Regions from separate parts of the Homo sapiens genome. Here regions 1 and 2 are each linked to region 3. The links come from fine-mapping of genetic effects on gene expression. A gene starts in region 3. Each other region holds a variant in brackets. All regions are shown on one strand. Distances are from middle to middle. Region 1 overlaps DPP10 (dipeptidyl peptidase like 10). Region 2 overlaps DPP10 (dipeptidyl peptidase like 10). Region 3 holds the start of DPP10 (dipeptidyl peptidase like 10).

What was found.
Region 1: its variant is fine-mapped to the expression of DPP10 in lung (TOPMed, PIP 0.97).
Region 2: its variant is fine-mapped to the expression of DPP10 in lung (TOPMed, PIP above 0.99).

What each region holds. Positions count from the first base shown.
Region 1 is chr2:114,770,224-114,778,223 of GRCh38, reverse strand. All of the region lies in intron 1 of DPP10 (dipeptidyl peptidase like 10), which reads right to left. Among named protein-coding and RNA genes, the nearest start is that of DPP10-AS3, 59 kb to the left of the region's middle. RefSeq lists an enhancer at 7,927-8,000. The variant A/G (reference allele first, on the strand shown) is at 4,960.
Region 2 is chr2:114,679,356-114,687,355 of GRCh38, reverse strand. The region is part of intron 1 of DPP10 (dipeptidyl peptidase like 10); the gene reads right to left. Among named protein-coding and RNA genes, the nearest start is that of DPP10-AS3, 150 kb to the left of the region's middle. The variant G/A (reference allele first, on the strand shown) is at 3,135.
Region 3 is chr2:114,438,075-114,446,379 of GRCh38, reverse strand. It overlaps DPP10 (dipeptidyl peptidase like 10), which reads right to left and starts at 3,739. Exons shown (of 26, transcript NM_020868.6): 1 at 3,542-3,739. The coding sequence starts at 3,601.

The DNA.
Region 1 (8,000 bases), 330 kb before region 3:
ACTCAGTCTATCTGTAAGTGTCATCCCTTAATATTGCTTAAAGATGATAATGATTAGGGTAATGAATGATAATGATGATGCTAATACCTATAATAACATTTCATTTATAGCCCTTCTTAGTAATGTATTTATTTAATTGTCTCACTCTTTCTTGGACATGTTTAAGATGATTGCTATTATTCCCATTTTAAAGGTCTTGAAACTGAAATCCAGAATGTCAGCTAACTAATGAAAGACACGACAAATTCAAATTTAGATCTTCAGATTATTGACCCTAAAGTCCATGCTTTACCACTACCCTACAATTATTTAAGCAGAACCTGTCATAAAATTGCGGATATGAGTCTAACTTAAAGAACAGTGAACTCTTTGACTATGTAACTTCATAGAACTTACTATAAAGCATCTTGGTTCTGCGGCTCAAAGGATTTCTGTTTAATGATGTCATTACCATATAGCCAGGACATAACACTGCATTTAAGAGATGTAAAGTAGTCATTTAAACATTTACTGCTTTGGGCTTCATATCTATTACTGATAGAAGCTTTGAGATGAGGATTTAAATACTACTTTATATTTATTTCTTAAGCTCAGCCACAAAGCATTTTCACACGAGACATTCAGCAACTCTGAAAGGGCTACTTCTTCCCAGCCATTTGCATTTGGTCAAACTTCCTTCTTTCCTTGCTGTTTATGACTGTAACAAGTGGCATAATATGAAGGACTGAAATAGGGAGGTTGCCAACTTTTCAAAACTTTTTCTGGAAGAAATATAATTTAGTAGGAATAATATATCCAAAAGTAATACTCAAAAAAGGGCCCTGAAAACCCTCTTCAGAAATGTATGTGGGTAATATATTTCTAAGGATTGTGATTTGTACAGTGCAAAATCCATGGGCAGTTCAAAAAAGTTGGACCAGGAAGAAAGGAAGCCATTTCCAGCACAAGACAGTGTTTCCTAGGCTGCAGAATTATAAGGTTTGAATGTGACTTGTTGGTCTTCCTGTACTCTTTTCTTATTCTAAGAAGAGTTTCAAAAATAAATGAGAATATGGTTATAAAAAACAATAAAATATACCCATTCTCAAAGAGTACATTTCATTTACTTCTGAATAAAAGTCTTAACATATGTAAAGCCTGTATTAACTGCTTTTAGTCCAATAATTGCAACTATACACTATATAATGTATATATTATATAGTTATGTACTACATGGTTTATAAAACATTTTCATATATCTTTTTTATTTTTGAAAAAGTATGTTTGGCAGAAATTCTTATGCCTTCTTTTTTTTAATTATGAGAACACTGATCCTTAGAAAGTCTTTTTGGCTACCATTATCTTCTCTAATAATTTGATTTCCTTTTCAAAACTCACACTGCTCAGAGAGGTGTCTCCACTCATCCCCTTTTCCAATACTCATCAATTCAATACTCATCAATTCTTATAATCTGCACTAACTTTATTTAATTTAAATCACTACAACTTGAATATGTGACTTTAAAAATTACTCTAATGTAATTTATCCAACAAATTTTTTGATCTTTTTTTAATGTAGTGTTTGTCAGCTCCCACCATAGATGACTTCAAGCTGCCAAAAATTTAACAAATGGCTCAAAAAATGTTGTACATTTAACAATATTTCTTTTGAGCCTATAAAAGCCAAATTCATCACACTACTGGCAGTGTTCACTCAGATCTAGCGCTAGCTCCTAAGGAGCTTATGGCCTGATAACGGAGATTGCATTCAGTAGAGAAAAGCTAGGAGTCTATTTTCTTTGACAAGGTCTTGGAAGCTCTGGAACCTTAGGTATGAATGTAACTGTTTTTTCCTTCTACATAAGCAGCAAAGGTCATTCAAGCAGAGGAGATAGTGTGTTCAAAGGCATGGATGCATGGAATGCCATGGCATCATTCTATATCCAATGTGCAGTGGGAAGGGCTGTCAGAAAAGAGAGTTCAGCAGGCCTCAGATCATGGAGGTTTGTTTGTGTTCTAATTGTTGTTCAATTGTTCACTCAATTGGATCAACTACATGACAACTAAGATGTATCTGCAGCTAATTTTACCTGTAACACTTTGTCTCTTTATTTTTATCTAGAGCTATATCTAAAAATCAGTGTATTTTCCCATCATATCTTCAAAACTCATTTTGTTTTTCACCATCTCTGGGAAGACATTCTTGACTTCTTCCATATTAACTCCTGCTATCTGCATCCAAGCACAGTGAACCTCCTCTGCTTCTGGGTCCTTCCCATGTGCCTCCATGAATGTATTACCAACATTGTAAGTATATTTGTTTAGATGTCTCTCTCTGTCACCCAAAGTGATAGTTCCTTGAGACGTAGGAGTGTCTTTTATTGTTTGTATTGCCAGAGGCTTGAACAGTACATGATTCATTGGAGATACTCAAGATATATTTATGCATTGTGTTGAATTAATAAGACACTTCTTGACTATAATTCAAAAGAATGAACAAAGAGTGGTGACATTCTAATTGTTGGGAATGTGAATGTTTCCTGACTCACCTTTCTGAAGCTGCTGCCATATACTAAGAAGTAATGAGTACAAAGAGTTCATGCTAACATTGCTTAGAGAATGCAAACTTTCTAGGCTTCCTCAGCCTGCTAGAACTTTCCCTCCAGCTGAGATCTACCTAGTTTAAGCCCAGTTTATACAAGATTTTGAGGAAGCTCAAAGAAGAAAGGATTTTCAGGATGCCCAGAAGTGGGACAAAAATGCTGACCCTTGAGTTGCTGTGCATGGCTTTAGTGTATTTCTGCACTTGGCAGCAATGTAAGTCTACCCCCACCAGCTATACTAACCACAAACTCCCTTTTAGAATCAGTGAAATTCAGAACTAGAAAGGGCTTTTAGACACCTACATTGGAAGATATCAACTTGAGTAGTATAACGACTTGCACTCTGGAGGTAGATTCTCCTGGGATATTGTACTTACTACTAAATCTTTCTTTGGACACTTTATGACCTTTAGCTATTAGCCTGCATCAAGTTGGGTTAACAGTAGTGACTACATTATTATTGTTAGGACTAATCAAGATTTTGCAGATATAATTCTTACCTTCTAATTGCATCTCTACCCATGCTCTTGTTGTAACACTGTATCATACAGAGTCAAGGGTGGGGACCAGGACCCAGATTGGCTGAGGTCAAATTCCATCTCTGCCACTTACTGGTTGGGTTATCTTAGATAAGTCACTTGATCTATCTGGATTTCAATTTTCTCATCGCTAAAATGTGAATAATAATAACTACCACTAAGAATTGCTTAGAGAATTATATGGTATGAAGAGTTTAAACAGGGTTCGTTCCATAATTAGTAAAGAGATAAAGTTGAAAGGCTTTGACCTAATGCTATTAGGTCAAAGACGTAACTGAATTTCATGCTTCACTTACCTCTATAAGGTTCCTGCTGTGTTTTCCTTATTCTTGTGAAGCTTTAGCCAACTAATGTTGTTGAATCATTGCTGTTGTTCATTCATTACCAATCCATTAATGCTCATCCCAGTGTAACTATAGAGTATATATATATATATACATCATTATTGATAATTATGGCAAATATAGTCATCTCTGTTTTGCAGTTAACTTCTGAACAGTGATACGCTCACAACTTTGAAACTATATTAAATATTTTATGAAAGTTTCTTACATTTTCTCCTGATTTTAAGATAGTGTTAAGGAGTAAATCTGCTTTCCTTAAAATAAAATTATTTGACTGTAACAGAGTCCCTCCAAATCTCCTACCTCATGATTCTATTTTATTCTCCAATAAGCAAGCCTGACTTAAGATTACTTTTTTTTTTGTCATAGGTCCAAATATGGCATTCTGTAACAAACGTGGTAACAAAAACCAAGCCCCAAAGACTCCACTTACTGCTGTGCATAGGTTGGTTATGGAATGTAGTGCATGAAGAGCATTTGCTTGCCTAAAAATTGTTCAGACTCACATTAGAGTGTCAATTTCATCATACATGTCTCTAAATCACTATAAAGTATGAGCTTCTTGAGGACAGAAATACTATTTATTCATCCCTGCATCCTCATCTCCTGGCACAGAATACAACCCACAGTGCATGTGTTGAATGAATACATATAAATATGTGATCGTTCTTAGCCATCAGGTTACTAGTATTCACTTTCTATTTCTATTCAAATACATATATATCAAATAAATATACATATATACATACACATACCTATATATCAAATAGAATATATACTTTTATATTTGATAAAGTTTAAAAGTTATACTTCAAAAGCTATAAATATATACTTTTTGATATCTATTTGAAATATCAAAAAGTATATATTTATTTTTTTGTTCACTAGCAGATAACTATTTAAAAAAGAAGCAATACAAAATAGAGACTGTATCTATATGAATCACTCTACAATTAATTGTATATGGATTTTAATATATTTTAGATCTAGCCTTTTTGTGGTTACTTTCAAGGGACCTTAGTAAGTTCAGATTCTTAAAATCACATCATGAGTCATCACTGCCTTCTTTATGGAAATGCAAAAGCCTTAGAAATGTGTTAAAAATGGAAAATGCTTGCTTTGGTTTTATATAATACCTTTCAATGTAAAGGACATTAATTTAAGTACCTGTTGTGCTTGGCTCCTTTGAGAGAAGTTGTGAGCAGGGCTTGTTTATTGAGTCTGCATTGTGTGTGAAACCCATTACATATGTTCATTTAAAAAGTCAGGCCTGTTGAGTTATAATTTGTATAAACTAAAAGTCCGTGATGAGTGTTCATTTAAAAAGTCAGGTCTGTTGAGTTATAATTTGTATAAACTAAAAGTCCGTGATGAGTGTTCATTTAAAAAGTCAGGCCTGCTGAGTTATAATTTGTATAAACTAAAAGTCCGTGATGAGTTTTGACAATGTAAATAGTTGTGTAACTACCATAACAATTAAGATAGACAAAAAGC[A/G]TATCACTCCTCGAATTTCCCTTGTGCCCCTTTTTAGTCAGTCTGCTGTTCCCACTACCAATCACTGGCAAATATGGATCTAATATTTTCCTAAGGTTTTGTCTTTTCAGTAATGTCACATAAAAGAAATAACACAGCATGTAGTCACTTTGCCTGGCTTCTTCTACCAGATGTTCTAATGTAATCATTACTAGACCTTATGAAGTAGGTTTTGTTATTTTCATTTTATAGATAAGAAAATGAAGGCTTTGAGAATTGAAGTGACCTACTCTCTCTAAGCCAGATTTTAATCCCCCAAATTTCATAAACTACAATAGGCTAAAGAAGATAATACTTTGGGGAAGATGTTGCTCAAATCTCATTACTTAAGTATCTGCTGGAACCCAGCTAATGCTGGCATGCTGGAACATAAATGGAAGCTCATTGAGTCAGCTCCATCTGGTTTCAGAATCTTGGCATCTAACTCAACATGTGCTTAAAAAAATCATGAAAGGAAACAATTCATGGTTAGCCACCAGGAGATGGTCCTAAGGCTCTGTTGACCCTACTTCTTAAACTGAGATTGAGTCAATACATTTATGCTTTAGCTGAAAAAAAAAAAAGGTATGAGGTGGAAATCTTAAGGAACACACATGAGATATGGAAAATTAATCCTCAAAGTACAATAATTACGGAGAAAGTTCCTATACTGTAAATGAGGATGACATAATTATTTACCAGCTTAGGTATGTGCATCCTTCTCTCTGTCTGATAAAGGCCTAAGTCAAATATGTTCTGTTTTGATTTTTAAAGAAAATAAAAAAGGTGGCTGGGTGCGGTGGCTCACACCTGTAATCCCAGCACTTTGGTAGGCCGAGTGGGTGGATCGCATGAGGTCAGGAGTTCGAGACCAGCCTGGTCAACATGGTGAGACCCCATCTCTACTAAAAATGCAAAACAATTAGCGAGGCATGGTGGTGCATACCTGTAGTCCCAGCTACTCGGTGGGCTGAGGCAGGAGAATAGCTTGAATCTGGGAGGCAGAGGTTGCAGTGAGCCGAGATTATGCCACTGCACTCCAGCCTGGAAAACACAGTGAGACTCTCTTTCCAAAAATAATAATATTAATAATAATATTAATAAATAAAATAAGGACATAAAGATTTAGAACTCTATACTATGAAAAAATAATTTTATGTATCTCAGCTCTTTTAGCAAAGACTATTAGGGTAATCCCATTATAATAAAATAACTGTGGAAAAAGATTATCTCAGGAGAAATTATTTAGACTCTAGAATGAAGAATTTTCTTCAATAATTAATTTTACTTGATACCTCTTACTGACCGTACCATACTGGCCTGAGAGTAAAGGGTGTTTCAAGACGTAATCTGCTTCCTTGGAAAAAAAAATCTAAAGTGTTTATTAAGTGTTTTACTATGTGTCCAGGCCGTGGGACTCCTATACTTTTTAAGAGTTGGAAACTTTTAATATTTTCTTAGCCTCAAATCAGACTGAGATTATGCATGACTATGGAAACATGCTACTCTTGGAAGTGTTGGAAGTGTTGAAAATCACATGCTCCCTTTTCCACTTCAACTTAGAAGTTCCAGTGATGTTGAACAAGTGAGTTTCCTCCCGGCTAAGACGGAGCCTCCTTCCTTCTATTCACCTATGGGTGCTATCACTAAAGATAGAAAGAGATCTTTATCTTTCTTGGTATCCAAACAATCGCCTTCACAAGATCGTTTGTGCTCTTTGAAGACGCAACCACATGCTAACTTTGCTTAGTCAAGTTTCTTATTCTTACAAGGATGGACTCCCTCAGGTAACAGGTGATGCTCGTTGCCGAATCAGGAAGCAGATGATGAATCTGGTTGGTAAAACAACGAGGGATGTTCAGGTGGCTTTGCTATGAGAGCAGTCCAGGTGAGGAAGGACATACTTCTTAGGTGTGACTGCTGTCTCCTGAGCACTGGTATGATACGGCCACAGTGAATAGCCCTGCAGTTGGGCTAATGGCTAATGTCTCCTGCAACCCAAATCTCAACTGAGACGATTTCAGAATGTAGCAAGTTGTCAGCTTCTTCTCAGTTAACACATAAAATGCATACAGCCAAATATCTGGCAAAAGTTCAAGAGTTCAATTTTCCTCAATTACTGATGCTTACAGGATTTTTCTTAACATATTCTAAATGAATTAGCTCTGAAGAATGACCCTGGCCATAATCACAGCACAGTGGGTAAGTGTTTAGACTTTTATATCAATTAAACATAACATTCATATCCAAAGTGTTTTAGTGTATCTGACAATAAAACCTTTTCCACCATTGCAGTCGTTTTTTCCCATTTGATTTTATAACCACATATTTCTTGCTGAAGGATATCAAGGAGATGTGGCCAAGACATAAAACTCATTTCAAAAATTTTGAGTATATGAGTAGTTCCTGGAATCCTGATTATTCCTTGTAGAGAAGGGACCTACAGATGAAAGAACAATAGCAAAAATTCTATAGCGGGACTCAAGGTATAAAAGAAATTCAGAGCTAAACAATGGCATTACTGTTCAAGGCCAAAATTATGCTTGATGTATAAGATTTTTCTACATTTTGTAGCCCATGTGCTCCCTCCACCCCAGTTATACAAATGTGCAAGTATCATGTCTTCCTTTAGTGTTTATTTGCTCTTTAAATATAAATTAAGCTCCTATAACTGAGATTACTAAATAAAGGAGAAAGCACATTTTTGGTTTTACGGCACGGTGCTATTTTTATTTTGCAAAAGTTGGGATCCATTCACTCTCTTACCACCATTGTGTGAATGTCCCCATTTCTCATGTTTCCATCTAGTTGAAGTATTACTACTAGCATGTATATGGATTCCTACAGTAATGTAAAAAAGTAATGTAATTCCTAAAAATAAATTAATAGTACCACAGTACTGTTGTTATTGTTCTTCTCTTCAATCATATAAATCCTCCCTTTTCGCTATTACTAGGAGCCTTCTAGAGGTATGAGGTCCCCTTAGCTAGCACTGAACCATGGAATTAGAACCCTGATCCCTC
Region 2 (8,000 bases), 240 kb before region 3:
TAAAGTAACTGTTAGCACCTTGTGACTACACTAGAGAAGCACAGAAAAATGTACAGTCCCCAGGGAGTCTTTCCTAAAGACCCCCTCAGGTGCAGCCAGAAAGAATAATGCTCAGAAGAAGTACCATAAAGGTCAGATGGGGAAAATAAGCAATGGTGACTCAACTGGAAAGGTTCAAGCCAACCAATGTCTGCTCCTTACTATTCTTGTCCATGCATATATTATTTTCTTCAACCAGTAACAGATATATGGGGATTCCACTGTAACCCTATCCTACGTGGGAATTTTTATAGCTGTTTTCTTGTTTTTCTCAACATTGTTGTATAATGCATGTCTGAGATGTGGTTAAACATATAGATTTTGTTCATATATTGCAAGGTAATGAGCAACATATGAGCAAATAATTAAAAGGAATGCACATCCCAGAGATACTATAAACTTGGTTCTGGTTGCAATAGTTGGATATGACTTTAAGTTTTCTACTACTTGGAAGAGGATGAATGCATGTGTGATACTTGAATTATGTTAAATAGAACGACTCTTGTAATTTTTTGTATGGGAAGAATGTATTGTACATTGGACAAAGAAGCTCTTGACTACAATTATTGCGTTTTTTCCTGGCTCAGGTCTTCTACCACACAGATAGACATGTGATCCAAAATGAGATAATTAATGCTCCTTATCCTATCTGTCATAGGGATGAGTCTAATGTTAGCCACATAACTTAAGCTCGGCCATTCAGAGTCATTGCCCCTAGTTTTTCTGATGGGGCTAACTAGGTATATGGTATCTCTTGGAGCCATGGAGATGAAGAATTAAAAGCAACTTAGAAGCAGAGATAAAAACCCTAGGATTCCTAGGGTTATGATGTCCTCAGTTTTAGCTCTTTACATCTATAGATATATTCTGGTTTTGCCATTCTTTTCTTTAATTTTGTGAAGTATCATAGAGTTTTGTTAATAAATTGTTTGTTTTGGTTTGCTGGAACTTAGTTGTGGCTGCTTGAAGAAGTCAAACCAATAGATAACTTTACATATGTACCTCAATCCACTAACCTTTTAAAGTAGCTACTATTATTATTATTATCTGAAAAACAGATACAAAAATTGATACTAAACAAGGTTAGGTAATTTTTCAGTCACTTAGCTCAGAAGTTTTAGAACTGGGATTGGAAATTCAGTCTGAGGCTATAATCAGAGTGCATTCTCTTTTCCTTGCATCACCTTGCCTTCTGAAGATGATTAGCAGTTAGTGAGGTAGAGAAAGCAAGCAGCCTGCATGTGTTCCAGGTCAGAAGAGCATGCTCATGTCCTATACTGGAAACTGGAAGTAGCACTCAGGGAAGAAAATACAGTGTACTGGTAGAGCCAGCTGTAATAATTGCTTATGAGAACAATATTAAAGAACAAAATCAAGGGATAAATAGGCTATATTTATGCCTTAGAAAAGCAAGTCTGGCAGCTGCTGTGGGAATAATGCATTAGAAGAATCCAACAGTGTAAGCAAGAAGACCGGATAGGAAACTTCTGTGATCACACGGACAAGGAATAATGGGGTCTTAATAAGGTGGCAAGTGATGGAGAGGACAGAGCCAAAGTCAATAAACTAATTACCAGGAGCACAATCACTGGGTAGAAAATGTATTAGGAAAAGAAACAAATCAGGAAAGACTTCCATATTTTAATTAGAGCATGTGTATAGCTAATAGTGACATTTGCTAAACATGGAAATATAAGCAGAATTGCGAGTTTAGGGTGAAGAAAAGATGAGTTCAATTTTGCACATTTGATTATAGGATATCAAATGGGAAACACTAGCAAGCACATAGCTAATTCTGGAGTTCCGGAAAATTGTCTCAGGCTTCAGAGAGAGAAATGGACGCCGTTAGTTCCCTTTTGGGGTAAACATAGGTCTTAGGTCTATGTTTTTCTATAACCAAAAGTTAATTATTTAATTATTGACAAAAACTGAGACAGGAATTTAGAGTAGCAGGGATCAGGCAGTGATTCCTAAGAGTCAGTGGCAAAATAACTATCCCAGCATGGGGTACAGCTTAACACATTCAAATCTTGTTGTTTGTTGTTGTTTTTCTCATGAGTTACGGGAGTGAGGAAATTAACACACAAGTTGGAAGGAGTGAGTTGGTGAGCAGGGTGAGAAAGGAACCTGGTATAATATTTCACAGCTAGGAAGAGAAAGAGGAATCAATGAAAAATTCTCAGAAAGGGCAACCAGACATTTAGAAGAAAGAAAATGAGGATATCTGGAAAGAGGGGATAATGGTCTTCATCAGACGATGCAGAAAGTTCATGTACAAACAAAAATAAAATATGTCCTTTTGACTCAGTTTGTAGGAAATTGTTGTTAACCTCCATACAGACAAATTAGGAATGTTCAGTAAATGCTTAAAAATTCAATCACAATCAGCCGCAGCCACTTCAGTGGATCTCCATGGTCTCCCCTAGGTAGCATCTCCTCAATTCTACAAACACAACACTAAGTATCCTGAAAACAGAATTCAGACCTACGCACATGAATCGAAGGTGCTGTACAGTATCTCACAATGGAAGAGAAGGTAGGTCTTCTTTGCCTTCACCCACTAAAAATGACAGTAATTTTCCATCCACCGACCTCTTTCCTTCGTGAAATGTGTAACTGCTTGTCTGAAGCATACCAGACTCATCCGGCAAAATGTGGCAAATGGGAGAGCAGAGCACAGGGCTCAGCTTTTCAGTGCCTGGGTAAGACCAAAGCCTGGCTGGTTGTTTGATGTGTCCTAGTGCAGTCAAGTTTCTTACCCAACCAGGGACCTTTAACAAAGTGCTGAAGAAAGCAGCCATTCTACTAGCACACTAGCATTGTAAAACCAGCCCAAAGGGAGGGAAAGAAAACACTTTCATATGCTAACCTCATCCTGTTTTTTCCCCTTTTGTCTCTCCCTTTTAAAATTTCTCTCTGTACTGCAGAATTCATTTCTTTTAGACCTCTGAACACCAGGTGAACATGTCACACTGAGCACCACAGTGAAGTAGTGGTAGAGTGAAACCAACTCCTTTAACTTCCACTTATCATAGAGTGGCCGGGAGGTAAAAGAGCAAGTTCCTGAGAGATCTCTGTATGGAACTCACAGGAAG[G/A]TCTACTTGTATTTCAGTTCCCACAGGGCCTGGCTCAGGGTTACCTGAAAAATAAAACCCACTACAGCCAGCCATCACTGGAATTAACACAAAGAATCTTCCCTATCTGGAATGCTGTGCATGACTTACTGGGTATGGAGACATGGATTGTCCCTGAGCAGGGTGGTCAGAAAGTGCCTGAGGCAGTGAGAATCTTTGAGTGTATTATCACTGGTCACAGTAGATTTGTCCCTTTACCCCATAATACAATACAAAAACTATCAGCAGTTTATATTCTGTCATGTGGAAATGGCCATGTCTTACTTAAACAGCGAGTTTGGACAATTTAATAAGGGGCTTTGGAAAGTGAGATGGTTTGCAAGATACAGGGGGTTAAATCTTGAAAGATGGGATATCACCATTTGAATGGGCTGATGTCCCTGAGCTTTCTGCAGCTAGGATGGCAGGGGAAAGAAAATCCAAGACGGGAGGGGAGAAGGGCTGAGCTGCACTGTCCTCAAGTAGTAGAAGGGAGTTAGTCAATCAGATACGAAGAAAACCTTCTCTCATATTCACTGTCATGATTGCATTCTTTGTTGTGATATAGGAAGAATCACACAGAGAAAGCAAGCAAGCAAGAAAGAAAGAAAAAAAGAAAAAGAGAGAGAGAGGGAGGGAGGGAGGGAGAGAGAGAGGGAGGAAGGAAGGAAGGAAGGGAGAGGGAAGGGAGAGGGAAGGAAAGGGAAGGGAAGGGAAGGAAAGGAGGTTGGAAGGAAGGGAGGAAGGCTGGAAGGAAGGGAGGAAGGCACACTGGGTGGTGAAGAGTTTATCCTTGGAATAAAGTGGGCCTGGGTGAGAATTCCATTTCCGTCACTTACTTTTTGACAAGACCACTTCTGTTTTATTCATCCTTATATTCCTCATGTTTAGCACAGCATCTGGTACATAATGGAAACTAAATAAATATTTGTTCAATAAATGAAAGAAAAAAACTAAATGGGAGAAAGTAAGATAGAAAGAATTTACCATACATTGAGTCAGTTGATTAACATTTCATAATCTACGTTTCCTCATCTGCAAAATGAAAGCAAATATTGTACCTCGATAAGGTATGGCCAAGACGATTCAAGGAAACAGAATAAATACAATTGTTCTTATCATCACCAGTGTCTGGTCCATAAGACACATTCAATAAATGTTTGCTCCTATAGTGATTAGCAAAGCATTAGAAATACAGGGTCTTTCAGTTTACCAAATGGAAAACTTGATTAAAGTACTGGAACATGACCTGAAGAGTGCACATGATTTCACCACAAGGTTAAACAGCGGTAGGGTGTACTATTTACATACTCTCAGCACGTCAGCACTCCATGAATTTCTGCAAGTAATTGGAGATATTAAATCTATATCTATATGTGATTCTATATCTAGATAGATAGATAGATAGATAGATAGATAGATAGATAGATAGACAGACAGATAGATAGATAGATAGATATAAAATCTTACCTGGGAGGATAGTATCATAAGAAAGAATAAAATCCTTGGCTCTTTTGAACCAACTTAACTATTTTTCCAGGCTTTCACTTTGAAAGTGGGGAAAAATTTCTAACTTCAGGGACATATTCAATATTATTCAAAAGCCTAATAATAATAATAATAATAATAATAATTACCCATCGATTGCAATTTAGAATTAATCACTGGGTCAACATCTCTAGCTATGGGTCTATGGAAAGCATAAGAAAATGTTTTACAGTTCATTAGTTGTCAGTGACTAATATACACTGGAAGCATTATTACATTTAAAAGAAAAAATGGAAAAGATGAAGGTAAACTAGAATATCATGCAATCACAGAATCTCAGGGTTGAATGAGCCTCTAAAGCCATGTTTTCAAATGCCAGCTGGAACTTGAATCCTTGGAAGATGTATGTCAGTCTGAGGTATTTAAGAATGGATTTGGCTAATTTCAAATTCATAATGATCTCCAGTTCCATCCATGCTACACAGAAAAACAGTTCTGAAGGAGTCTTCCCCTTCAGAGAGAGGATGGGGAGAGAGAGCAAGTGGTGAGAGAGACAGAGACAGAGACAGCACCAATCTGTGAGTCATGTTGCCGGGTCTAGGAAATGTTGTGAATTGTACAATCTTACAGCAGGGCTTAGGACTTGTGCCTTAATTTTCAGCACTTCCATTGAAGGGATGGGACTGAACAATTGACAACGCTTTAACTCATCTCTTCTGAGCTTTTTCTACTAGGTGAGACCCAGGCCAGCCATTTGCTAAGTTTCCCAGACTGTCCATCACTGGAAATTACACAATCTTTCCTAAGCATTGTAGCACCATTTATTTCTTCTTATCATTACAGCAAAATGCCACAGTGATCTCACAACATGGATTATGATAGAAACATAAAATATAGCAAATTAATTATTTATCATAACAATGTTGGATGACAAAGAAATAAAAATAGGCTGTCCTCATCCAAAAGCAATTTAAAAACTCTAACGTAGAGTCAGGCAAAGGCTCCCCTGACCTACTACCGGCTTTGTAAAATGTATTCTTTCAAAGCATTTTCTTCTTTTTTTCAATGCACAGATATTCCCTGCTGTTGGATAATAAAGTCAGCCCACATAGAGCCTCCCTTTGTTACAGGAGGCATTTCATTTAAAGGGCCTTTTGGCAATCAGGAATACAGTTGTAATGAGAATCTCTGAACTGGGAAGCTAACACAAAGTCAATTCTTTTTTTTCCTCATGTAAACTTATGGCTCTATCTGGTCCCTATGAAATAGATGATAAATGCTATTTTAAGAGTAGAAAATATCAAGAATCAGAGAAGGAGGAAACTTTATCATGTTCACAAGATAAAGCAAAGGGAATTGAAAACTGGCTTGAGAGTTGCGGATTTCCTTTCCAGACTCTTGGTAGTAGAAGAATCTAAGTGAATCAGGAGAATCACTGGTAAAGCAAAACGTATCCATAAATTAGACTGTAATGGACTATGCACTGTATGGCATGATGGTGTTTAAAAACAAATTATGTCAGAGCAATTCAAAGTAAGCAACATGATAGGCTAATATGATTGAACATTGAAAAAGACTTCAGAAAAAGCAAGATTTAGGTTGGAATTTGCAAAAGGGGTAGAACTGGAATAGTTGGAGCAGAATTGGGTAGGATATTTTTGGAGAAGATCAGCTTAATTAAAAACTAATTATTATGACCTAAATACAGAACAAAATGGTATATCATTTATAATATGGACAATATGAAAAGAGAATCTTAAATGAGAAAACATGGAATAGGTACATGTTACATGGAGGACTCTATCAGGTAATAGTCAAAATCATCTCTTTTCTAAATAAGTGCCTTTGATTATGGGACCACGTATTAGTCACATGGTTTTTCTAGGTCCTGACACCATGCTTGTTTCATCATTTTAGTTCAGTTGTAATCTGGTTGATTGGCTGATTCCCTGAATACATGTCTGAATAGCCTATGAAAACAACCTTGAAAAGAGTGAACTTATTTTCAAAAGTCAATTTACTACATTTTCTTCAGGACTATATTCATTAGGCCATTTGTACTTTACACTTATGAAGAATTATTTCACTATATTCGTAGGTCTCCTAAACATCAGGTTGTACTAACCTTTTAACACGTTTTTATTCAATTGAAAACATTGTACAGAGTGAAGAGATGCACAATTAGCTTTTAAAGAAGAAAGGCAAAATACTGAATTCTTAAAAAGTAGGAATCTAGGGAATAAATTACACTTCTAAGACAGAAGGAACAATGTGAAACCAGAGTGGTGAGAGAACCTATTATTGCCATCTACTCTCAAAGCTCTTAAAAAAATACAGGACCCAGTCTTATAAGATCAGATAATGTTGTTTTGATAATAAACACATTCAGAAAGTGAGAAAATGGCTCTGTAGTTTAGAGTGATTACAAAATCATAAACATCATGAAATAACGTTGCATGAGTTTCCCATAAGGGACATCACTAGCAGGAACATGAAAAGTTTTTATTAATACCTGCGTATTAGCACTCTCTCTTATTTTAAATTTAGATGCTCTCCATCATATCTTTAGCCTAGACACTGACGTTACAGTATTTAGAAACTTTACTGAAATAGATAAGCCTCAAGAGACGATTCTATAAAAGTACAGATGTGCCAACAGAAGTGTTCGAGATAAGATTCTGCAAATTGATTTCCATCAATTACATCCTATTTTAAATATCCTAGGGGAAAATACCTGCGGAGAATCCTGTCATGACTTGCAGAATGGTTTCCTATATCCTGCACTTTGTCAACACATTTGAATACGGTGAGCTTATTTAGCTAGAGGTTTTCTATGCTGAAGCTCCAGTCCTTGCTCCATAAGGGTACTGTAGTAGAAGTTTGCCATCTCAATTCTTAAAAATTTTAAGACTGTATAATATTAGTTTGAAGCATTCTTGTAATCAGTGAGAAAGCCCTAAGGTGACATTTAATAAATCCTTCTCAAAAATGTATTCCAGCAGAAATATCTTCAATAAGTAATTTATGATAGATTATCTAAATTTCTCTTGTAGTTCTAATTATCAAAGGGATTATGAAAATTACCTAAGGACACACAACTTGCATGTGGGGCAGCTGTATGAGATTTCAGACCCTTATTCTTCCACATCAGGTTTTTCCTAGTACACAATAAAGATTTTTTTTCTACTTTCTTAGAAAGCTAACTGGGCAAAAAATACAGGCAACTCACCTCCTGGATTGCATCTCTAGCCTAAGAGTCCTCTAATATTTAGTTCTAAATAAATATTCTAATATAAACAAGAGGGGCCTAATGCATACCAGTTTGTGCCATTACAATAACAGCAGGGTCTTTTATAAAAC
Region 3 (8,305 bases):
AAAAGGATGAAGGATTTTCTCTACTCATTTTAGACACACGAGGATACTAGACTGATATTCAAATGTGAAAGAAATAAGAAAAAAATCTGCACATTTTAGAGGCAAAATTCTAAGTTTGCAATTCCACTAGCAAAAGAAGTAAACCAAGATCAGAGATTTAGCTGAAAGGTTTAATTTACTTTCAGTGCAGCCAAGAGAAGCCATAATGGTGAAGGAAAAACTCAAGTTTGCTACCCATGGTGGGGGACATTCTTCAGAAATCACGTTTATAATAACGCAAAGATCTGATCTCTATTTAGCATTCCCAGATACTTCCTAAAACTTTCCATTAAACATCTCAGAGTAAAAGATTTTTTTTAAAAGAATGTTGCTACCTTCACAGGAAGATTTGTAATCACATCAGGAAAAGCTTTCTTCCCTTACAAGCTCTGAAATGGAGGAAAGTTTTCAGAGTGAATTGCATTCAGCATTTCACCCAAAGTGATCTGAGAACACACTTGGCACCCCTATTTGACTCCCTTTTCTCTCCCTTACTGGTTTTGACGATAGGAACATACCTGCCAAAGTATGCCAGGAAAAGTGTGTCAGTAACTGTCTGAGCTAAAGAATGGCCAGAACGACCAAAGCAAGTGTCAAGCAACCTGAATACTCTTGATCATCTTGTTCCATTATAACTTCTCCCAATTTCCTCTTTTCCAACTCTGACACATCATGGCCACAAACAGCCTTCACTGGCAACAATTGCTGAATTTTACCCACTATAGACTTCATCACTTCTTGAACTTCAAGTGGAGGAGAACACACACACACACACACACACACACACACACACACACACACACACAGAGCTGTTTTTCCTCCTCCTGCACACTTTTGGCCTTTACAGCTATTTTAGCAATGCATTTCACTTTTGTTCATTCCCATTGCATTCTTTTTAGCCGTAGTTTAACTGTTGAGAGAAGAAACAGTCAGCATTTACTATACTGATGGGGGAAAAGTTCTCTAGAGGTTATTACACTGAGCTTTGGGAGAAAAGTCTCTAGAGGTTTTTGAATTTCTAAAATGGAGCAATATGCAAGTTATTTATTTCCAGATCCTCAAAGTGGGTTATCATTACCTGCAGGCCAACCAGATTCCATGAGGGAGGGTTACTTAAAATTATCTGATAGTAAATTGATAGTAAATTTAAGAGTGAGGAATAAAATTAACTTTAAACAACCATGCTTGAAACTAAAATTCTAATAGTTCAAAGAGTATTTTGAGCTCCAATGTCCCACAGCTTCCCAAAACCCTCTCATCTTAGAGTTTTTCTTTAGATTGTTATTGCATTTTGTTCATAGGCTAATGCATTACCTAAATATAGATAGCCATTTTTAGTATAAATTCAAAAAGCCATAAATGTTTCATAATTGAGCACATAATTTGAACTAAGAGAGATTTTCCACTCATCCCTTTTCACTATTGCAAATTGCAAAATACTCAAGTAATTACTCCCTTAATAGTTCAGTGCTTGCGACTATATATATTTTATGAACATCACAAGCATTTTTTTGCTCCCCAGAGCAATATTGGGAATGGGGTGCACAAAAGAATTTAACTTGTACAATTAACCAAATTACCCAGAGCTTTGATTCAAGATTCCTTCATTAAGCCATTAATATAATACATTGTTAAGTGGTGGGTTGTCCAATTTTTATGATACTTTTCATTTCAACTCAATGGCTGCAGTTAGAAGGAAAAAACAGCATCTGCAAGATCAGCAAGATGATGTAAAACCTCTACACTAGAAACATTTTTTTTTCTGTTCCACAGTTTGTTTGTGGGCAGCCAATGCCAGAGCACTAATAAAGGAAGTGATTTGAAGTCTCTGAAAGTAGTAGTCATTTATGCTTACTCAATAAAGAAAAGGGAAAATAAATGCTTGATTCCTGTGACCTCAGACTCTTAAACAGAAAGCCACTGGTTTTGTTATAGCATTCTAGACATACTTAGCAGTAGGCAGCCAGTTTGTAACTCTATCCCACTTTAGGCTTCAATACATATTTCCCACTAGAGCTTATATATCCCAATGTAGAGTGTCATGTATTTACTATTTTGGCTTTGTTCAGTGATATGCTTAGATAATTGATGTATGTGGGAAACTGATACACAGAGGAAAACTATACCAAAAGCTCAACATTTTTTATTTCTAAACTTAGATACAGCACAGAAAATCTAATGCTGAAAAAGATTCTCATATCTGTTATTAGAGGTGGTGTAAATTATCTGAATATGAGTTCTGCATGATTTCAGTTAACTCCCTATGTTTATGTATGATGGGAATCTAATTATGCATCATTTAATATACCCTGGAAACCCCATTGCTTTTAAAAGTCACTGCTAATAAATAGAGGAACATGTTTAGTTTATGGTTTATCTATCACTGAAACACTCTGGCAAACGGTAGGTAAATTCATGAAGAAGAGACATTGTTGAAAATTATATTCCTTTTGTAATTACAGTCTATGCAATATTATTAAAGGCCTGAGACATAAACCAAAACATAATATAAATCATAAAAAGTCAGGCTTATCAGGAATAGTAGCAAAAGGTATGCACTTGTATGTTAATGAGAGATTGCAGTAACTAAAGATGCCCTGTCAGGATATCACGTTTTTTGTTTTAGTTTTTTTTTTTTTTTCATAAAAGAGTTTCAGACGAATCCATCACTTTCCCTCAAGATGCAAAATATCCACATAGATAATAATACAATTCAAGTAAATGGCAAAATATAGTAAACTTTGATTGGAAGTCTGGTCGTTTATAAGCCTTCTTGGAAATAAGAGCATCCCGAATAAAAACAAAGAGAATGGTATAAGCATGACTTGAAACTAAAACAGAAGAGTGAAATTGTGAGTTTGTTCTTTACCTTTAACCATGTGCTGTCAGAAAAGCCTCAAATTTTAAACAACACCTGCATTGAAGAGTGTCTCCAATCATCTCACTGGTTTTGAGTTACATGGTGATATAAATAAAGACATGTGATTTTATACTCTCTCTCTAGTCTTTCATCCTCTCTCACTATAATCACTTTAGTATAACCACCAGTTCAATGCTCACAATGAAGGATGAGCTTTTTTTAAAAAAGGATAAGAGATCCAAAATTCATATGACAATGAAATCCTGTTATCAGATTTGTAGTCAATTTGATGCTATTTATTTCTAGCAGTTTGCAAATTCTTCCCCAGTTCTATCAAGAAAATTGGCATGGACTGGAAACTCTTCTAGACACTCACAAAACTTTCTTCTGGAAATATACCTCTGATAGATTCTCAGTAAAAAAAAAAAAAGTCATGAAGATGAAAGAAGTGTTCAGTGGAAACTATTCTTTCCAGTCTACACACACATGCAGAGCCAAATGCTTTATTGTGACTCAACCTTCAATTCAAACTCAAATCAAGTAGGTATGTCCACTGTCAGTACCCCGATATATCAATGCCCATGTGTTAGGTAGATGAATGAAGACACATGTGCAGAAGCAGAGGGAAAAACCAGATCCTACCTTGATTGTTTTTGAGGGTTGACACTTGATGTGATGGGACACGCTGGCAGTTTGGTTCATGTTTCAGGACCCTGGACAGTGCACAATCCCAGGCGGAGTTCCAGAATGAACTAGAGATCAAGTCTCCTCTATTGGACTTCAGTAGGGGCTGCTGCTGTTGCTGCTGCCGCTGCTACTGCTGTTGCTTCTGCTGCTTCTGTTTCTGCTGCTTCCTCACTCCGGAGGCTGAAACGCTATCAGATTGGAGGAATCTGTATCTCACTTAGCCCTAAATAGAGCATTTACTTGGTTCATCAGTCTCAAAGCTCTTGGCAATATGCAATAGAAAGCCAAAAACGGTTTAAATTCACTTGCAGTGTACCTTTTCAGTATGGAGATGTGACAGCTCCACAGTACAGCCAATGATCCTGGCTCTCATTCCCCTTTCAAAGGGACGAAAACCAGAAAACATACAGAGATCAATTGCAGTCCTGCAGTTTAAAGGGGCACTCTCAACTCCTCTGTCTCTCCAGATTATAGTTTTTCCAGTGCAAAATATTTCTCTCTCTCTCTCTCCCTCTCCCCACCCCTAACCCAGTTTAAAAAAAAATCATAACATCCTCATTCTGTTACTAAATTTTATTCCTTCCTGGGTACTTCTTGCAATCAAAACACAAGTAAATGCTGTGGAAAAAAAAAAAAAAAGACTGTTGGCAGTTTCAGAATTTGGGGGTTTTATATCTATAGGTTGAAGGACTGATATTCCCTATGGATATTTTTAAAATTTAGCCATAACAGCCAGCCAAGAGACTGTCCTTTCTGTAAGGTGGCAGAAAGCTTAAGGTATATTTAAAAAGTTTTCAAATACAATAGTTATTGTAGTTTTTGGATATCGCACCAAAGCTAGACAATGTTTTTATTTTCAACCTTTATTTTTGACCATTGCTTTCCTTGAAGCCGTATTTTTTGAATGCCTGGGACAAACTGGTAGTTAGCTCATGCCAGTCTAACTCCCCAAATGGTCACCTCTCTGTCCCTAATGTCATTTTAGGCAAAATAAATTATAAATATTTGTAAATTAAGTTTTCCGAGTCACCAGTCCCCATTGTCACATCAACACTAACTAGAATAAATATATCCTGGTTGGAAATAAGATCCAGTAGTCTTGAGTAAATGCAGGACACTCTTTTCCAACTTTTGTTGCAAAGTGTTTGATGTTGAAAACCAACAGTATTTATTCATCAGAAATGTATCCTACTAATGAAATGCTAGGTTTATAAGATTGAACTAACGAACTACATTCAGGAGGCTTTTATGAACAGCCTAAAATATTACAGATAAACTTTAATGTGAAATGAAATAAATTAATGTTTGGTGAAATTAATTTATACATAATTATAAACACATATTTTCTCTTGTAAAACAGAAAAGGGATCTAAACATTCTGACAAAGTAGTCTGCACATGTTTGAGGATGGCTAAGTTTCAGAAGGTTATAGTTCTGAGTAGCAAAGTGGAGGTAAGGATGTGACAGAAGTAAGATCAGACTGTTTGCAGCCACAAAAGTTAATGGCAAGAGTATTGGAGAAATCAGGAGAATCATGGGAAAAGAGATGGAGCCAATAAGAACCAGGCAAAAGGCTGTGTGCAAGAATCTGGTGTAGCAATATCCAGGCATCATATTGAGCACAACCAGAGGCAGCCATAGGGCCAACAAATCTCATGATTTGAAGTTTACAATTCTAAATCACAAATGTGACTGGAATTTGTGGCTTATCTTGTATTTTGCTTGAATAGCATTGCTTTGAATAATTCATAAATCACAAAAAGAGTATATTAAAAATGTTTAAACATTTTGTATTCAACAATAATGAAAACAACACAGAAAATTTGCAGTATGCAGCTAAATCAATATTTAAAGGAAAATGTATATAATTAAGTACCTATACCAGAAATGCAGAAAAGCATAAAATTAATAATTAATAAGCTAATTATTCATATCAAAGAGTTGGAAAAAGAATGGCAAAATAAACTCAAATAAATTATAGGGGGGAAACAATAAAGAGAAGAGAAGAAAGTAATGAAGTAAAAAACATACAAAATACTCAATGAAAAAACCTATGAACATTTCATCAGGTGGTTTACAGTTTGATAATCTCTGAATAAATGAATGTTCTATACCAGTAGAATTGGCTTAATTCCTTTCTTAGATAGCACTTTGTACTAGGTATCTAAGAAACTTCCAAACTAAATTATCTGGGGAGCCCAGGGAGGGAGAGCAGTCCAAGAGTTCAGAGTATCCCATCCCCATCAAAGAACTGTACAGGATGGAAGGAGCCACTAGTACTTCAAGGAACCCTCTCCAGGCACATTGATAGAGACAGCATTTATATGCCTACCACAAAGAGGGTATGAGTTGCTGGATTTCTACAACTATAATCACATGAGACTTCACCCCTTTTCTACAATTTTTCAAAAAGGTTCTACCCCCACCTGGATGGCAGCAGGATCCAAGAAAGATATTGACACTACCATTTATAGGTAGGTGGCCAGAATCCACCTAAAATCTTTTCCCAAAGTTGCATTTTGAAAATAGAGAAAAATCACAGTAAGAGAAAAGAGTGCCTCGTATACACCATATGCTCCCTTTCCAGGCTCCACATTATATCAAACTCCAAGTTCCAAAGAAAAATCAAGTGTTCAGAGCAAAACATATGACCCAAATCTCATTTTGGATTTTGTTTTCCCTTTCTGTTATATTATCATTTCATGAATCAAGGAAATGAAAACCATAGTAATTTTTAAACATTTCTATTTAAAACATGTATAAATTGTTCATTATTTTGTAAAATCTGCTGTATCTTAATGTAGCCAATTGGAATGTACAACTAGAAGAAAATAGAGACCAAAGAAATTTAGACAAGTGCTAGAGAATTACAAATACCGCTTAATAAGGATAATTCATATACATTTCTTCTAATTGGGATATATTGGGCTCAATATGTTTAGAATGAAAACAGCTGCAAAATTGCATCACGGTTTGTCACATGGAAGTAGTTTTTTTTAAGGTTTAGATCTGCTGAAGAAACACTATACAGTAAATCATACTGAACTAGAAAATTTAGACAATTTAGTCCAAAGGACCAATTTCAAATGTAATCAACACTTATGATAACCGTATAAAAATATGTTGTTGTCAAACAGTTTGGGAAAAGTTAGGAGTGAGTCCCTTCCACCTTTCCCACAAAAAAAATTAAGATGGCTAACGCTTTCAGAAAATATAACCCACGATGTTCCTTGACCAGCTATCATTTGATCCGGGAAATAGAAATTTAGGATGGGGTTAATGAAAATATCCCATTAGAAAAAAAAAAAAGTCAAAGTGTCAGATGGATTCTACTACCAATTTCCGTCTCTTTGTTTCAAGTCCCATCTGCCCAAGCCCTAACTAGCTGGTCACAGTGATGACCTACAGATTGCAAAGTTAGGCAAGCCCAGGCCTCTAGTCAATAAGAATGGTATCTGAAAGGATATTGGGCTGTTTCCCTGATTTTTTTGAAATCTACTGTAGAAAATTCAAATCCCTCCATGACCATTGAGGGATCATCTCCTCATCTTAACACCTATCATCTGTGTTCTGGTCTTCTCATGACCCATCCACTGAGTCATTTGCATTTCCTACTAGAACTGGAATATGGTTTCTAATGGTTGGCTTTTTTGACTTGACCCTCACCTAACTCCTGCCTGCCACATCTTTCTTCATGATTGACCCCTGCTTGTAACACCTTCTATGCTTCAGATTGTTCCCGGGATTCACTCAAGTGGAAGTCTCTGGTCTAATTGTGGCTTCATGGTCTTCAAGAATTGATCTTTTCTGGAAACCACTTGCAGAGTCAGGATAGGCAAAGTTATGGTTCAATAACAAATAACCTCCAAGGTCGGGTGCAGTGGCCTACACTGATAATCCCAGCATTTTGAGAGGCTGAGACAAGTGGGTCACTTGAGGCCAGGAGTCTGAGAACAGCCTGGGCAACATGGCAAACCCCATCTCTACAAAAAAATACAAAAATTAGCCTGGCATGGTGGTGCACACCTGTAATCCCAGCTATTCGGGAGGCTGAGGCATGAGAGTTGCTTGAACCCCAGAGGCGGAGGTTGCAGTGAGCTGAGATTGTGCCACTGCACTACAGCCTGAATGACAGAGGGAGACTCTATCTCAAAAAATAAAAATAAATAAATAAATACATTTATAAGTAATCTCTAAATCCCAGTGGTTTAAAATAATGAAGGTTTCTTTCTCATTATACAGCATGCCAATACCTGGTTGGCACGGGAGGAAGAGCACGTGAGGCTCTTTCAATCTTAGGGATCCAGGCTGATAAAGGCCCCATCTTAATACAAGCTTTCACAATCAACAAGGCAGAAGGAAAGAAACATGAAAAATCATGCTCTTATTTAAAGGCTTATGCCCAGCAAAGACACAAAACACTTCTACTTACATTCCATTGGCTAAAGCCACTCTCATGGCTACATTCAAGTTTAGGTAACAAGAAAGTGACGTGCAGCATGCACCCAAGTAGCAGTAAAATCAGAATAGCATTCTGAGTAACCCTAATGATAGCCATAACCCTACTGCTGCTTATTTTTCATATGCAGAGATATATGCCTATCTCTGCCATCCAACCTTAAGATGCCAACATGCTTATATTTAATGGTCCATAGACTGTGACAAGTTAATTTCAAAGCTACTTCAGGTAAATATAAGACAGAACTTCTTTATCCTATG